Regions from separate parts of the Homo sapiens genome. Here region 2 is linked to region 1. The links come from fine-mapping of genetic effects on gene expression. A gene starts in region 1. The other region holds a variant in brackets. All regions are shown on one strand. Distances are from middle to middle.

Region 1 (8,327 bases):
CGCCATGGTGATCCCCGGTTACCCAGCTGAGCCACCGAAAACTCCTTGGCGTCCAGTGACAGAAAACTTCCGGCTGGTGGCGGAAGTGAACGGCTCAGTTTCCGGCCAGGGGTCCCGGGGAAAGCCGACCCGGACCCCAAGGCGCGTATCGGGCGAGTGGGCTCGCGGTGGCGGCCTAGCCCACAGCGTCCGATTTGCTGGGGGCCTCCCGAGCCTGGAGACTGAGTGACCCACCCCTCCTGCCTAAGGGACGCTATCTTCAAGAACCGGAAGAGACCACTCCCACCCCCACCCCGCCCCTGCTTTCGCTCTTCTCTGCAATGGGGTCTCCGAAAGGAGAAGACTGCAGCCCTGTGACCCTGGAGGTTTGCGCTCTCCTATGCTGTCTCAAAAAACTGCCTCCTTCTAGGCAAGGGCTTCCAAACCCTCATCCTGATCTCACCTTCAGCCTTACCCGCCAGCTATGATCCACTCGACTGTGAACTTAAACTCGGCATAGCCTAAAACAAGCCCAAACTTCTCACCCGTTTTCACTCCTAGGCTTGAGAGCTCAGTATGTAGAGTTCCTCACTTCCTCATCCCTCCAGCCTCTCAAATCTATCACCCCTTCTCCGTGGCCACCGTTTCAGCCAGATCTTTGCATTCCAAACACAACAGAAAGTAGGAAGTGCCCTCTCAAAGGTGGGTCTGCTGAACCTCTGCTGATACTCTCTTTGCAGCAAGTCATCTGACCTCCCTCCTCCAGAGACTCAGCCCTCTGCCCCCCGCCTGGACCCCTGTGTCAGTACCTCTTGAATGGCCACTTCTGCCCATGGACAAGAAAGGGAGGGAGTCTGAGTTCTTACCAAGCTCCTCAGGCCATTCTGATGCTCATCAAAGTGTGGGAAAGCCCGGTGGCTCACGCCTGTAATCCCAGCACTTTGGGAGGCTGAGGCGAGTGGATCACCCGAGGTCAGGAGTTTGAAACCAGCCTGACCAACATGGAGAAACCCCATCTCTACCAAAAAGTACAAAATTAGCTGGGCATGGTGGTGCATGCCTGTAATCCCAGTTCAGAGAATTCAGGATTCAGGAGAATCGCCTGAATTCGGGAGGTGGGGGTTGCAGTGAGCGGAGATCGTGCCATCGGACTCCAGCCTGGGCAACAAGAGCAAAACTGCGTCTGAAAAAGAAAAAAAATGTGTGGGAACCACTGCTTTGGGTGGTGACCTGTTTTCTTTTATTGAAGTAGAAACACTAACCATTATGCAGAGTCCCTAGAGGAGTGGCCATGGGGATTTGGGGGCAGAGGAGGGCTTGGGGGACATCAGTTACCCCGAGGAGCCTGAAAAGAAGAAAAACAGCCCACCTTACATGGATGCCTTTCTTGGATCTTAGCCAGCTCAAGCCCCAGCTCAGGAAAACCTTCCCTGAGCTCCCTTTCATCTGCTTGCATAGCACTGACCTCTGCACTGCAAATAGATATTCATTTGTGTGATTCTGTTTTCTCTTCTAAAAATCCTAATGGTAAAAACCATATCTGTTTTTGCTCACCTCTCTTTTTCTTTTTTTTTTTTTTTTTTGAGACGGAGTCTTGCTCTAGTCACCTGGCCTGGAGTGCAATGGCATGATCTTGGCTCACTGCAACCTCTGTCTCCTGGGTTGAAGCGATTCTCCTGCCTCAGCCTCCTGAGTAGCTGGGACTACAAGCACCCCCCACGACGCCCAGCTAATTTCTGCATTTTTAGTAGAGACGGGGTTTCACCATGTTGGCCAGGCTGGTCTCGAACTCCTGACGTCGTGATATGCCCACCTCGGCCTCCCTAAGTGCTGGGATTACAGGCATCAGCCACTGTGTTTTGTTGTTGTTGTTGTTGTTGTTTTGAGATGGAGTCTTGCTCTTGTCGCCCAGGCTTGAGTGCAGTGGCACGATCTCGGCTCACTTCAACCTCCGACTCCCGGGTTCAAGGGATTCTCCTGCCTCAGCCTCCTGAGTAGCTGGGATTACAGACATGCACCACCACACCCAGTGAATTTTTGTACTTTTAGTAGAGGTGGGGTTTCACCATATTGACCAGGCTGGTCTCAAACTCCTGACCTCAGGAGATCCCTCCACCTCAGCCTCCCAAAGTGCTGAGATTACAGGCTTGAGCCACGGTGCCCAGCCTCACCTCTCATTCTTAAATCCCAGCTCCTGGTACATAGTAGGTGTTCTGTAATGTAAGATAACTAGCTTGGGCACAGTGGATCACTTGATCCCAGGAGTTCAAGACAAGCCTAGACAACATGGTGAAACCCAGTCTCTACAAAAAATACAAAAAATTAGTTGGGCTTGGGGGCACACACCTGTAGTCACAGCTGTTTAGGAGGCTGAGGTGGGAGGATCACCTGAGCCTGGGAAGTCGAGGCTGCAGTGAGCCAAGAGTGCCACTGTACTCTAGCCTGGGTGATGTGAGTGAGACCCTGTCTCAAAAAACCAACAAACAAAAAGATCACAACTGACATCTATAATTACAAGTCCATAGATAACTTTCTTTTTCATTCTTTTATTTATTTATTTTTTTTGAGATGGAGTCTTGCTCTGTTGCCCAGGCTGAAGTACAGTGGTGTGGTCCCGGCTCACTGCAACCTCTGCATATTGGGTTCGAGCAGTTCTCCCACCTCAGCCTCCTGAGTAGCTGGGACTCCAGGCATGCACCACCATGCCTGGTTAATTTTTGTATCTTTCTTCTTCTTTTTTTTTTTTTTTTGAGACAGTCTCACTCTGTCGCCCAGGCTGGAGTGCAGTGGCGCGATCTCAGCTCACTGCAAGCTCCGCCTCCCGGGTCCCCACCATTCTCCTGCCTCAGCCTCCCAAGTAGCTGGGACTACAGGCGCCCACCACCACGCCTGGCTAATTTTTTTGTATTTTTAGTAGAGACGGGGTTTCACCGTGTTAGCCAGGATGGTTTTGATCTCCTGACCTCGTGATCCGCCTGCCTCAGCCTCCCGAAGTGCTGGGATTATGGGCATGAGCCACCACACCCGGCTAATTTTGTATTTTTAGTAGAGATGGGGTTTCTCCATGTTGGTCAGGCTGGTCTCAAATTCCCGACCTCAGGTGATCCACCCACCTCGACCTCCCAAAGTGTTGGTTGGGATTGTAGGCGTGAGCCACGGTGCCCAGCTTTTTTTTTTTTTTTTTTTTTTTTGAGACTGAGTCTCACTCTGTTGCCCAGGCTGGAGTGCAATAGTGTGATCTCGGCTCACTGCAACCTCTGCCTCCCGGCTTCGAGAGATTCTCCTGCCTCAGCCTCCCAAGTAGCTGGGATTACAGGCACCCACCACCACGCCAAGCTAATTTTGTATTTTTAGTAGAGACAGGGTTTCACTGTGTTTGTCAGGCTGGTCTCAAACTCCTGAGTTCAGGTGATCCACCCACCTCAGCCTCCCAAAGTGCTGGGATTACAGGTGTGAGCCACCTCGCCCAGCCCATATTTTTTCTTTTTCTTTTTCTTTCTTTCTTTCTTTTTTTTTTTTTTTTGAGACAGAGTCTTGCTCTGTCGCTCAGGCTGGTGTGCAGTGGTGCAATCTTGGCTCACTGCAACGTCCGCCCCCTGGGTTCAAGTGATTCTCCTGCCTCAGCCTCCCGAGTAGCTGGGATTACAGGCATGTGCCACCACGCCCCACTCATTGTTTGTATTTTTAGTAGAGACAGGATTTCATCACGTCAGCTAGGCTGGTTTTGAACACTTGACCTGAAGTGATCCGCCCACCTCGGCCTCCCAAAGTGCTAGGATTACAGGGGAGAGCCACCTCATCTGGCCCGTATTTTTTCAAATCCCTTTCTCACCATTGTTCATTGGTCCTGAATTTATTTTTATTTATTTTTATTTTCTGAGACAGGGTCTCACTCTATCACCCAGGCTGGAGTGCACTGGCATGATCATGGCTCACTGCAGCCTCGACCTCCCTGGGCTCAGGTGATCTTCCCACCTCATCTTCCCAAGTACCTGGAATCACAGGTGCATGCCACCACACCTGGCTAATTTTTGTATTTTGTAGAGACAGGGTTTCATCATGTTGCCCAGGCTGGTCTTGAACTCCTAGGCTCACCTCTACCTAGACTTCCCAAAGTATTGGGTTAACAGACGAGCCTCTGTGCCTGGCTCCTGAAATAAATCTTTACTTCTGTTATCATGTATACAAAAAGCTTAATAAATTCCAGTACTGCCCTCCCCTCCCCTCCCCTTCCCCTCAAAAGAAAGAAAGAAAGAAAGAAATTCAGTGTCACAGATACAGCAAAACCCCAACCCGCTTCCCTCCTCCTAGAGGTAATCGCTATCCTGAAGTTGGTGTGCATCAGTCCCAAGCCTCTTTTCGTACTTTTTCCACGGTTGTTTCCATAAACACTATGTGGGATTGTTTAGTGATTTTTAAAACATATATAGTCCGGGCGCGGTGGCTCACGCCTGTAATCCCAGCACTTTGGGAGGCCAAGGTGGGTGGATCACAAGGTCAGGAGTTCGAGACCAGCCTGGCCAACACGGTGAAACCCCCATCTCTACTAAAAATACAAAAATTAGCCGGGCGTGGTGGCGGGCGCCTGTAATCCCAGCTACTCGGGAGTCTGAGGCAGGAGAATCGCTTGAACCTGGGAGGTGGAGGTTGCAGTGAGCCGAGATCGCACCACCGCACTCCAGCCTGTGCGACAGAGACTCCGTCTCAAAAAAAAAAAACATACATAGATGTTTTCTACTGGACATACCGTCTGCTATAATTTCCTCTTAACATTGTGGGTTTCTTTACACCCCCCAAACTCATTTTAATGTCTGACATTAAAGCCTCTCTGTGATGTGCCGCTGGGCGGGGCTCCGAGTAGTGGGCGGAGTCTAGATTGGGAAATAGGGGCGGGGCCTATGAGATCCCGGCCTCAGGGTGGACGCAGTGGTTCTGCACTGAGGCCCTCGTCATGGTGGCGCCTGTGTGGTACTTGGTAGCGGCGGCTCTGCTAGTCGGCTTTATCCTCTTCCTGACTCGCAGCCGGGGCCGGGCGGCATCAGGTAGGAGATGCCGCTGCACCAGGGTTGGTGGTACCGGGTTTTCTGGCCTTCTGAGCCTTTGTGGACCGTCGCGCCGCGGCTCCTGCGCGTGCGCACCTGGGCGGGCGGGACGCATGCGCGTCCGTGCGCTAGTCGTGTGCCGGGTGGGGCTTCCGCAGTGCCCTACCTGGAATCGGTGGCCGCGCCGCTACCCCTTTCTCTCGACTCCAAGCCAGAGTCTGGCCTCATCCCTCTCTTCACCCCCGGGAACTCCATACCTCCAAAGGCCTGAGGCCCTGGCCGGCGCACACTCCCATCCGTCACCGTCGGGGCCCTTTCCCTCTGCACCTGTTAGGGAGGCCGCAGGGGTTTTCCATTCCTCCCAGCCTGGCTCCAGAGCAGGTGCCAGGAAGGGGGCATCTGAATATTTTCTGCCTGTCCCCCACGAGCTGGAGAAGCGCGAGGCGGCTCCAGGAAATTCCTGAAGCTCTCTCCCTTCCCGCCAAGGAGAGGGCCCACTCTCCCTCCCCAATCCGCTCCCCGATCAGAAGGCCATGTCATTGGCCAGGGCACAGAACAGATACACCCATCCTCCCTCTTTCCCCCCATTTCTGGTCAGCGGGCGGGTTTGTATATGTGTTTTCCTGCTCCCTGGGCCCACAAGCTACCTCTGAGCACCTGCGCGCTCCCAGGAGCGGAAGGGACACGCTGAGGGAAGGCGGAGATCCAGCAGGTCTTCCCGGGGGAGGCTCGGCCACCGCCGGGAAGTGTACTCTCTGGCTGGGGAGCCAGATAAAACCACAGGTGGTGTTAGGCGAGAAATCAGTGGATTCCTGCAGGGGGTACTCGATGAGAGCTGGGGACATCAGGATAGGGGCCTCCTGACAGGCCAGCTGGAAAGGTGGAGCCGGGAGGGGAGAGGAGTATTCACACAGGCCCGAGGGAAGGGCTGAGCCCCCGCCTGGGACCAAGCTGTGGGCCTGGTGGAAAAGGCCTTGCCAGTCAGACTGAGAAGTCGGGGCCTTGTGCTGTGGGCAGCAGGCCGCTAAGCAGAGGAGGTGAGGCTTCCGGGCTGCCGCTCCTCCTGCCATGGGCCGGGCTGGGCTTATAGGCAGCATTGTCATTTCTGTCTTCCCTACAGCCGGCCAAGAGCCACTGCACAATGAGGAGCTGGCAGGAGCAGGCCGGGTGGCCCAGCCTGGGCCCCTGGAGCCTGAGGAGCCGAGAGCTGGAGGCAGGCCTCGGCGCCGGAGGGACCTGGGCAGCCGCCTACAGGCCCAGCGTCGAGCCCAGCGGGTGGCCTGGGCAGAAGCAGATGAGAACGAGGAGGAAGCTGTCATCCTAGGTGAGAGGGGCCCAGCCTGGTGGGGAGAGGGTTTGGGTTGGAGGGGGGGATAAAAGGGCCCCCAAAGCTAAGTGGGGGAGTAGGGTATGAAGCCTCAGGGTAGGAGGGACGTCTGGGAGCCACACGGTAGAGTAGGGGGGGACTTGGGACCTGGCATTTGTTCCACTGGGTCAACCCCCCCTACCTTCATCTTGGCTCTCAGTGTCCAAGCAGAGGGCAAGGGTCTTCAGTTTGATTCAGAATGTTCCTCAATTCACCCCTTCTATCCTCGCACCCTTCCTGTTATGGGCACACTTATTCCCTGAGGATTTCACCCTAGAGGCAGAGTGCCTGGCCAAGAGTTTCTGCAGTTCCTGGAGTGGGGTCACCCACAACCCCAGGAAAACAGTTTAAAGATAGAGACATTCTGTTGACACAGAGGCCTCCATATCCCTGCTTCCAGGAGACCAGGAGAGCCCTCAGGATTGTCTTCTCCAGTACTTGGCAGCTGGCTTGAGCCTGAGGAGGGGGCGTCTGGGCGTTTCTCAGAAACTGGGGGCATTTGAGGCTTTTGCCTTGTACCTTTGGGGATTATCCCTTTAGCTCAAGAAGAGGCCCTTTCTTTGCCGTACCTTCTGGCTCAGACTTGGGTTCAGAGACCCTTGCTGCACAGGCATCAGTGGGTCTTTAACTTGCAGCTGGCCCTGAGGTAGTCATAGTGTTGGGACTGTCATTTCAGCCAGGGTTTGATGGGCAAAGGGATAATCCTGGCCAGGGACTAAGCCCAGAATCCTCAGCAACTCCTGACGATTGTGAGGAGGATTTCAGATTTGAGGCGGGATAAATTTCCTCATGGGACTTCCCTTGCCTGGGGGTTTGGCACCAGAGACAGAAGCCAGAGAACTCTGGAGTTCATTAGCCAGGATATTTAAGGTACATTAGGTGAGACCAGCATTCAGAAAGGTAAAAAACCCTCTCTGGGCCGGGCGTGGTGGCTCACACCTGTAATTCCAGCACTTTGGGAGGCCAAGGAGGGTGGATCACGAGGTCAGGAGATCGAGACCATCCTGGCTAACAATACAAAAAATTAGCCGGGCGTGATGGTATGTGCCTGTAGTTCCAGCTACTTGGGAGGCTGAGGCAGGAGAATGCCATGAACCCGGGAGGTGGAGCTTGCAGTGAGCCGAGATCGCGCCACTGCACTCCAGCCTGGGCGACAGAGCGAGACTCCGTCTCCAAAAACAAATAAACAAACAAAAAAAACCCTCTCTGGGCTGGGCATGGTGGCTCACGCCTGTAATCCCAGCACTTTGGGAGGCCGAGGCGGGTGGATCACGAGGTCAGGAGATTGAGACCATCCTGGCTAACATGGTGAAACCCGGTCTCTACTAAAAATAAAAATAAAAAAATCAGGGGGGCATGGTGGCTGGCGCCTGTAGTTCCAGCTACTCGGAAGGCTGAGGCAGGAGAATGGCGTGAACCCAGGAGGTGGTGCTTGCAGCGAGCCGAGATCGCGCCACTGCACTCCACCCTGGGCAACAGAGCGAGACTCCGTCTCAAAAAAAAAAAAACCAAAAAAAACAACCCTCTCTCCTAATGCCTCCCCTATGCTGTATTCTGGCTTATCAGCCACAGTACCTTAAATATCCAGGCAGCGCTATCTGTGACCCCGAGACACTTGCATATTTTAATCTGATACCTCCTTCTTTGTGGCTATGCAATATCTAAAGTTCTCATCTTTTTTTTTTTTTTTTTGAGACAGAGTCTTGCTCTGTCACTCAGGCTGGAGTGCAGTGGCGTGATCTCGGCTCACACCACTTGGCAGCAGATCTCGGCAAGCTCTGCCTGCTGGGTTCATGCCATTCTCCTGCTTCAGCGTCCCTAGTAGCTGGGGCTACGGGTGGCCACCACCACACCTGGCTAATTTTTTTTTTTTTTTTTTTTTTGAGACAGAGTCTCGCTCTGTCGCCCAGGCTGGATGGAGTGCAGTGGCGCGATCTCCG
Region 2 (8,327 bases), 53 kb after region 1:
CTGTGAAATCACATCATTCAGGGAGGTTTGGGCATTGCCTTTTGGAACTGACAGGGTCCAGGAGTGTCTGAGGCTCTACTCTGTTTCGTTAGGACCCCTAAAGGGGAGAAAGGTATACTTGGGGCACTTAAACTAGGAAAGGAGTTTTGTGAAATCATATCAGGTATCTTTGACCTTTATTGAAAGAGTCAGGCCGGGCGTGGTGGCTCCTGCCTGTACTCAGTACTTTGGGAGGCCAAGGCAGGTGGATCACTTGAGGCCAGGAGTTTGAGACCAGCCTGACCAACATGGCAAAACCCCGTCTCTACCAAAAAATACAAAAAAATTAGGTGGGCATGTTGGCGTGAGCCTTTAGTCTCAGCTACTTGGGAGGCTGAGGCAGGAGAATTACTTAAACCCGGGATGCAGAGGTTGCAGTGAGCTGAGATCACGCCACTGCACTCCAGCCTGGGCAACAGAGCAAGACTCTGTCTCAAAAAAAAAAAAAAAAAAAAGAGTCAGAAGTTAATTGACTGAGCATCTCATAGTGTTCTCTTTCCAGCTTTCCTATGGATTTTCTGAGAGTCTTTGAGTAAGGAGGAACTAACCTTCTCAGGTATGTTTTCGCTATCTGGTCATCCTGACTGCTGCTTCTTTGCAGTGTCTTTTCTCCCTACTGTTCTTCTCTGCTGCTTCTGTATCTTCCTTGTTTTTCTTTCCTTCTCCACAGTACTCAAGACCAACTTCTGAAGTCCTCTGTTTCAGACCTGTGTATGTAGATACAGTTTCTATAGAGTTACTGTAAATGTTGCATAGTGAAAAGAGTAAGTAGCCACTGTTTACCATTTGTAGGTTGGCTCTTCATGCCTCTAAGATTCCTTATTTTGTTATCATTTCTGTTATTGAACATCTTTAAAGAAGTTCTTAGGTAGTAGAAAGTGCTTGCACTAAAAATAACTTTTCAACATTTTCCTTATCTATTAAGCTACTTTCTCCATTCATTATCTTGAACAATACCATAATATCTTCATAATACATGGATTTTTTAATTTAATTTTTGTCAAAATTGTACATGTACATGGTTTAAACAGTCAAATAGTTCAGTAGAGCTTGTAACACTAAATAATAGTTTCCTCTCCCGACCCACTTTTTTTTTTTGAGATGGAGTTTCGCTCTGTTGCCCAGACTGGAGTGCAGTGGTGCGACCTCGCCTCACCACAACCTCTGCCTCGCGGGTTCAAGTGATTCTCCTGCCTCGGCCTTCTGAGTAGCTGAGATTACAGGTGCCTGCCACCATGCCTGGCTAATTTTTTGTATTTTTAGGAGAGACGTGGTTTCGCCACGTTGGCCAGGCTGGTCTCAAACTCCTGACCTCAGGTGATCCTCCTGCCTCAGCCTTCCAAAGTGCTGGGATTACAGACTTGAGCCGCTGTGCCCAGCCTACTTTTTGTATTTTTAGTAGAGACAGGGTTTCACCATGTTACCCAGGCTGGTCTAGAACTCCTGGCCTAAAGCAATCCGCCCACCTCAGCTTCCCAAAGTGCTGGGATTACAGGTGTGAGCCACTCACTGATCCTGGCCATCACTATATTTATTTTTTCTTTTCTTTTCTTTTCTTTTTTTTTTTTTTTTTTTTGAGACTGTGTCTTGCTCTGTCGCCCAGGCTGGAGTGCAGTGGCACGATCTTGGTTCACTGCAACCTCTGCCTCCTGGGTTCAAGTGATCCTCCTGCCTCAGCCTCCCAAAATATTGGGATTACAGTTGTGAGCCACCACACCTGTCCAATTGTACTTCTTTATTATGGACTTTGAGGCTCTAGGTCTCTTGTATCATCAACCTCCCCCTACTCCTCCTCTTACTCACTTTATCCTCCCAATATAGTTTGCTCATAATTTTTGGTTAGGCTAATATCAAGATTTATATTAATAAAATTATGTTAGTATTATTCTCAACTGAATAGGGAGTATGATATACTAATATTTTCTTTACTCTTTTTATTTATTTATTTATTTTTTGAGATAGGGTCTCTCTCTGTCACCCTGCCATAGCAGGATCACAGCTCACTGCAGCCTTAACTTTTTGGGCTCAAGCAACCTTCCCACTTCTACCTCCTGAGTAGCTAGGACCACAGGTGTGTGCCACCAGGCTTGGCTAATTTCTAAATATTTTGTAGAGGTGGGGGTCTCACTACATTGCCCAGGCTGGTCTCAAACTCCCGGCCTCAAGTGATCTTCTCACTTTGGCCTCCCAGAGTACTATGATTACAGGAATGGGCCATTGCATCCTGCCTGTGGTAACATATTCTATCTTGTATAACTTTTTTGTCTTCCCTGGCATTAATAATTTTTGTTACTGTTTTTATTAGCATGGCTTTTTGTATCCTTATCTCTTGTTCATGCCCGGATTATCCGGTAGAAGTATGATTCTCCTCTCCTGGGTACTGTCTATGTCGTCCAGCATGAGCTGGTTGCTCTTTATGTCTGTTCACAGCTCTTGTCCTGGGATCTTCCTTCACCTTTTTCCTGGGATTTCCCTTTGCTTCTCTGTATTGAACCCTAGTTTCTGGATCCCATATCTCTACTGCCAACTTTCAGGTCTTCAATTGTGGTAGCTCTCCTTACTTTGATCCTGGAGCATCCTGCGAACTCTTTGCCTCATGTAGATTTCAGCCTTTGAGGTCTTCTCTTTGTTCTTTTTTAAAGTACAGGTTGAGCATTCCAAACCTGAAACTCCAAAATGCAAAATGCTCCAAAATCTGAAACTTTTTGAGCACCAACATGATACTCAAAGGAAAAAAAAATGATTGGAGTATTTCAGATTTTGGATTTTTGAATTTGGAATGCTCACTGGTCAGTATAAAGCACATAGTCCAAAAACTGAAAAAGTTTAAAATCTGAAACACTTCTGGTCTCAAGCATTTTGGACAAGGGATACTCAACTTGCAGTATAAACCGTAGTGATAGAATCGTAGACTGTTAGAGGTGGAAGGGACTTTCAAGCTTACCTAGTTCTAACCCTCCAGCTCCCTGGCACCTGGAAATCCTAGAAGACCATAGATTGTTCAGCCATCCCACCCCGTACTGCCCCCCGAACCTGTTTTCTGACATCCATTCTTGTCTCTCTAGTACACCAATAATGTGGGCTGAAGAGTCAGACAGTCTTTAATATTAGGCTCCACTCAATCCCTTGGCTGTGTAACTTTTGGCAGGTTTCTTAATCTTGTGGTCTCTTTCTCATCAGTAATATGGGGATTATAAACTTACATTACAGAGATGTTATAAGGATGGGAACTAATGCAGATAAAGCAGCTTTACAAGGCTCTAAGCCTTGGCACAGAGGAGGCCCTAAGGCATAGCTCTGGTTATTTCCATCTTGGATCTTAGCCTGTGTTTTTACAAATCAAAAAGTGTCACATGAATTCAAAACACTGGAGCTGCACCAAACATTGATGTTCTAGGAGATGGTTCTTTTATTTCCAGACCACGTATAGTAATTTCATTAAGTACTCTTAGGTAGAATTAATTGAAGTAATTTTAATTATTTAATGTTTTAAAATTAATATCATTTATAGAGATATTTGTTAATTCTTGTTTATGTGCTATTTGTTCCACTCAATATTAGTGTGTACTTTTTCATGTGTTGATGCCTGCCACACATTTATCTTGTAAACCAGCCTCCTTCTAGACAGACATTTTCTGTTTTTCGCTTTACTATGGCACAGCTATTTTATTTAAAAAATGGGACCTTTAAATCTATTTTTTTAGGATCTACTTTTTTTTTTTTTTGAGACAGTCTTGCTCTTTCGCCCAGGCTGCAATGCAGTAGTATGATCTCAGCTCACTGCAACCTCTGCCTCCTGGATTCAAGCAATTCTCCTGCCTCAGCCTCTCAAGTAGCTGGGATTACAGGCGCACTACCACGCCCAGCTAATTTTTGTATTTTTAGTAGAGATGGCGTTTCCCCATATTGGCTAGGCTGGTCTTGAACTCCTGTCCTCAAGTGGTCCGCCCACCTTGGCCTCCTGAAGTGCTGGGATTATAGGTGTGAGCCACTGTGCCTGGCCAGGATCTCCTTCCTCAAATGAGATGAAGACTACAGATTTGAACAGTATATGGCTTTAGTTGCACATTGTGGTGGATTAAATTAAATTCCAAATTCGAAAGTAGGTCTTCCTCTTCTTTTTTTTTGAGACAGAGTCTTGCACTATCGCCCGGGCTGCAGTGCAGTGGCGCTATCTCAGCTCACTGCAACCTCTGCCTCCCAGGTTCAAGTGATTCTCCCGCCTCAGCCTCCCGAGTAGCTGGGATTGCAGGTGCCCCAGCTGCAATTGCAGGCGCCCACCACCACGCCTGGCTAATTTTTTGTATTTTTAGTAGAGACAGAGTTTCACTATGTTGGCCAGGCTGGTCTCGAATGCCTGACCTCATAGATCCACCCGCCTCAGCCTCCCAAAGTGCTGGGATTACAGACATGAGTCACTGTGCCCAGCCAAAAATAGGTCTTCTTAAAAGCCCTGTTCTGTCAGCTGGAGAGTTCTGTTACCTGCTATCTCTGTTTTTTTGGTTCTTTTTTTTTTTTTTTTTTTTTT[G/TG]AGACAGAGTCTCTGTCACCCAGGCTGCAGTGCAGTGGCACCATCTTGGCTCACTGCAACCTCCGCCTCCTGGGTTCAAGCGACTCTTGTGCCCCAGCCCCCCGAGTGGCTGGGATTACACGCTCATGCCACCACACCTGGCTAATTTTTGTATTTGTAGTAGAGATAGGGTTTCACCATGATGGCCAGGCTGGTCTCGAACTCCTGACCTCAAGTGATCTGCCTGCCTTGGCCTCTCAAAGTGCTGGAATTACAGGCATGAGCCACCACGCCTGGCCATCCTGCTGTCTCTTTTGTTCCCACCTTTCCTGTGCTGTAGTATTAATTGGATTTCCTAATGACTATTTTGAGGACTGTAATCTTCAATTATCATCTAAATATTAAAGAAAAACATTATTTTAGTACTATTTTTCTATAGTTTTTCCAATTTTAATTAAAATTTTTTATTTTTTTAATTTATTTTTTATTTTATTTTATTTTTTAGACAGTCTTGCTGTGTTGTTCAGGCTGGTCTCAAACTCCTGGCCTCAAGCAATCCTTCTGCCTCAGCTTCCCAAAGTGTTGGGATTATAGGCGTGGCCAAGTTTTTCTAATTTTTAAAAAGCTGGCTATCTGCATTTATAGAAATAGTGTGTAGCAGAGATCAGCAGACTTTTTATGTAATAGACCAAACACTAAATATGCTTTGCAGGCCATACAATCTGCCACAGTTACACAGTTCTGCTCTTGTAGCAGGAAAGCAGACATAGACAATATATAATGAATGGCCTAGCTATGTTCTGAAAAAACCTTGTTTACAAAAACATGTGAAGAGCTAGATTTGGGCCCCAGGACATAGTCTGCTCACCCTTGATCTGAACCACAGATTGAAATTTGGTGGGCAGAATGGTCCACAGGTGGTCAGGCATGGTGGCTGATGCCTGTAATACTAGCACTTCAGGAGGCCAGGGTAGGAGGATCACTTGAGCCCAGGAGTTTGAGACCAGCCTTGGCAACATTGTGAGACTCCATCTCCACACACACACACACACAAACACACACACAAACACACACTAACTGGGTTTGGTGGTGTGCACCTGTAGTTTTTGCTACTTCAAGAGGCTGAGGCTGAAGTGGGAGGATTGCTTGAAGTGGGAGGTCAAAGCTGCAGTTATCATGCCACTATACTCCAACCTGGGTGACAGAGTGAGACTGTCTCAAAAAAGAAAAAAAGAATGGTCCACAAGCCACAGTAAAGAACCAAGTGTATAAAAATTTAATGTGAGAGAATTCTGCTCTGATTCACACAGAAATTCATACATATGTTCCTGCCATCTAGAGAAGCCTGTGTAGCTGGGCTACTGGAACAGAGCCACTGACCTGCCCTGCTGTTCTTTGATGAACTAAATGATGATGTGCTATGGGCTCTGGAAGAAAGTGGCTGACAGCAGAGTTAGGCAGGCATTTCAGAAAGTCATTCTGGCACCCTTGGAACTTTTATGGAGTTTTCTGCAGCAACAGCCCTGTCTGGTACATCAGTTGACAACTCAGGTCTCCTTGGGTCTTGCTTGTCAGGCTTTGGCACTTAAGTGGAAAGAAAAAGAATAAGCATTAAGGAAAGCGAGAGCACAGCAGAATCAATTTCATAGTCTCTCATGGTTTCTGCCATGGGAGAAAAATGGGCATTATACTGCTCACAGGCAGAATAAAGACTCACTGGAAACATTGCTAAGCTGCCTTCTCCAGAAGATGTCAGCGGGGCAGTTGCGTCAATTGGCGTTCCCTGAACCCTGAGCCCAGCTTTGGGGTACTCTTTGCTTCCCACCCGTGAAGTGACAGTGAGCAGACCCTCAACCTTCTGCTTTCTCCCACCAAAATGAGTGAGTTTTTTAGTATACTTTCTAATAACACCATTACTCTGTGACTACTCTCTAATAGTGACTCAAATTCTGTTATAAGCTTCCTGAAGAGGAGAGTAGGCATCTTCTAAAAAGTAAAAGAACAGCATTAGAATGACAGAATTTTGGAATTAACAGTTTTGCGCTATAAGAACAGGGAGGGTTATCGTAGGTATAACTAATTAAATCTTTTTTTTTTTTTTTTGAGATGGAGTCTCACTTTTTCGCCTAGGCTGGAGTGCAGTGGCACGGTCTTGGCTCACCGCAACCTCTGCCTCCTGGGTTCAAGGGATTCTCCTGCCTCAGCCTCCTGAGTAGCTGGGATTACAGGTGTGTGCTGCCACACCTGGGTAATTTTTTGTATTTTTAATAGAGACGGGATTTCGCCTTGTTGGCCAGGCTGGTCTTGAACTCCTGACCTCAAGTGATCTGCCTGCCTCGGCCTCCCAAAGTGCTGGCATTACAGGCATGAGCCACCCACACCCAGCCAACTAATTATCTTTTATACCAGATCCCACTTTTTACTTAGTGCTGTTAGCATAGCAGTTTTTATAAACATTCTTCAGGTAGGACCTGTTTGCCTTGATATCAAAGAGATGGAAGGAGTTGCTCACTTTTGTTCCCAGCCTTCTTTCTAGAAATCTGCCTTCCTTCTTCCTATCAAATGTTAGCGGAGCACCGTCTCTTCTTTAGCCGTCACTGCTTGCCTTGTACAGTGAAGGAAGTCTGGTGAGCAGCAGTCCAGGAACTGCCCACGGGTACCCTGGGTTGGGGGTTTTCCTAGGCCTTTACACAGACCGCAGAATTTATCCTTGATATATGCTGTCATGTGGTTTGGGCATTTACTAGCATTGAACTTATTTGAGTAGACAGCAGTGTAGTTTCAACCTGTTTTTTATAATGTGTAAATTTGGATGCTTTTATAGGTAGAAGCCACTCATTCTTCATCTACCCTTTTTTCAGTATCTGGCACCAATTCTGACCCAGTCATTTGTGATCCCTGGCTCTTGTGATATGCTGAAGATTTCCAGGCAGTTTTTGTGGAACACCTCCCCGTCCAGCTCTAATCAAGCACCATATAAACAAGAAATTGCCTGGTCAAATCTGTGAGGACTGTATTCTGACTGCCAAAGAGATCAATACTGACACCAGAATGGCAGCTACTCTCAAGTCATTAAAACTTGTAAGATACCGAGCATTTTGCAGTCCTTCTGCCTTTGGTGCAGTCCGAAGTGTGTCATACTGGAATGTGAGCAGCACACAGCATGGGGGACAGGACCCTCCAGAACACATTAGCCTCTGCCATTCTGCCAAAAAAGTTAAGAACATATGTAGCACCTTCTCTTCTCGGAGAATCCTGACAACCAGCAGTGCCCACCCAGGTTTGGAATTCAGCAAGACTTCTTCCTCTAAGGCCAGTACATTGCAGCTGGGCTCACCCAGGGCCACAGGAGTTGATGAAGAGGACGTAGAAGTGTTTGATTCCTTTGAAAACATGCGAGTTTTCCTACAGCTAAGACCAGAATACCGTGTTCACAGCTATAATGCATCTGAGACTTCTCAGCTCCTGTCTGTTTCAGAAGGTGAACTAATTTTGCACAAAGTCAGAGTTAATCAAAATAATCTCCAGGCTCAAGTCATTGTTGATTATTTGTGTAAGCTGAGCTCTTTGCCTGCAGAGCAGCATCCTGTCTTGCTGGGCAGTACCAGCTTTGCTCTGCTCTGCCAGCTGAGTGTGAAGAAGATACAGCTCTTTGATACCCAAGATCTGATCAATGTTTTGAAAGCTTTTGTCATTTTAGGAATCCCTCACTCCCATTCAATGCTAGATGTGTATGAGACCAAGTGTTGCCATCAGGTATGGGAGATGAATATGGATCAGC

The links. PIP is the estimated chance that this variant, and not a neighbour inherited with it, causes the effect. A credible set is the group of variants that fine-mapping cannot tell apart.
Region 2: its variant is the best candidate, but not a certain one, in a credible set for the expression of DDRGK1 in whole blood (INTERVAL, PIP 0.67).

The regions. Positions count from the first base shown.
Region 1 is chr20:3,201,231-3,209,557 of GRCh38, reverse strand. It overlaps DDRGK1 (DDRGK domain containing 1), which reads left to right and starts at 4,876. Exons shown (of 9, transcript NM_023935.3): 1 at 4,876-5,021; 2 at 6,142-6,345. The coding sequence starts at 4,931. It overlaps ITPA (inosine triphosphatase), which reads right to left and starts at 60. Exons shown (of 8, transcript NM_033453.4): 1 at 1-60. The coding sequence starts at 6. RefSeq lists enhancers at 1-465, 4,965-5,184, 6,188-6,786.
Region 2 is chr20:3,148,341-3,156,667 of GRCh38, reverse strand. All of the region lies in intron 1 of UBOX5 (U-box domain containing 5), which reads left to right. FASTKD5 (FAST kinase domains 5) reads left to right here. Exons shown (of 2, transcript NM_021826.5): 2 at 7,408-8,327. The coding sequence starts at 7,598. UBOX5-AS1 (UBOX5 antisense RNA 1) reads right to left here. Exons shown (of 7, transcript NR_038395.1): 7 at 5,801-6,130. Among named protein-coding and RNA genes, the nearest start is that of FASTKD5, 7.4 kb to the left of the region's middle. The variant G/TG (reference allele first, on the strand shown) is at 4,568.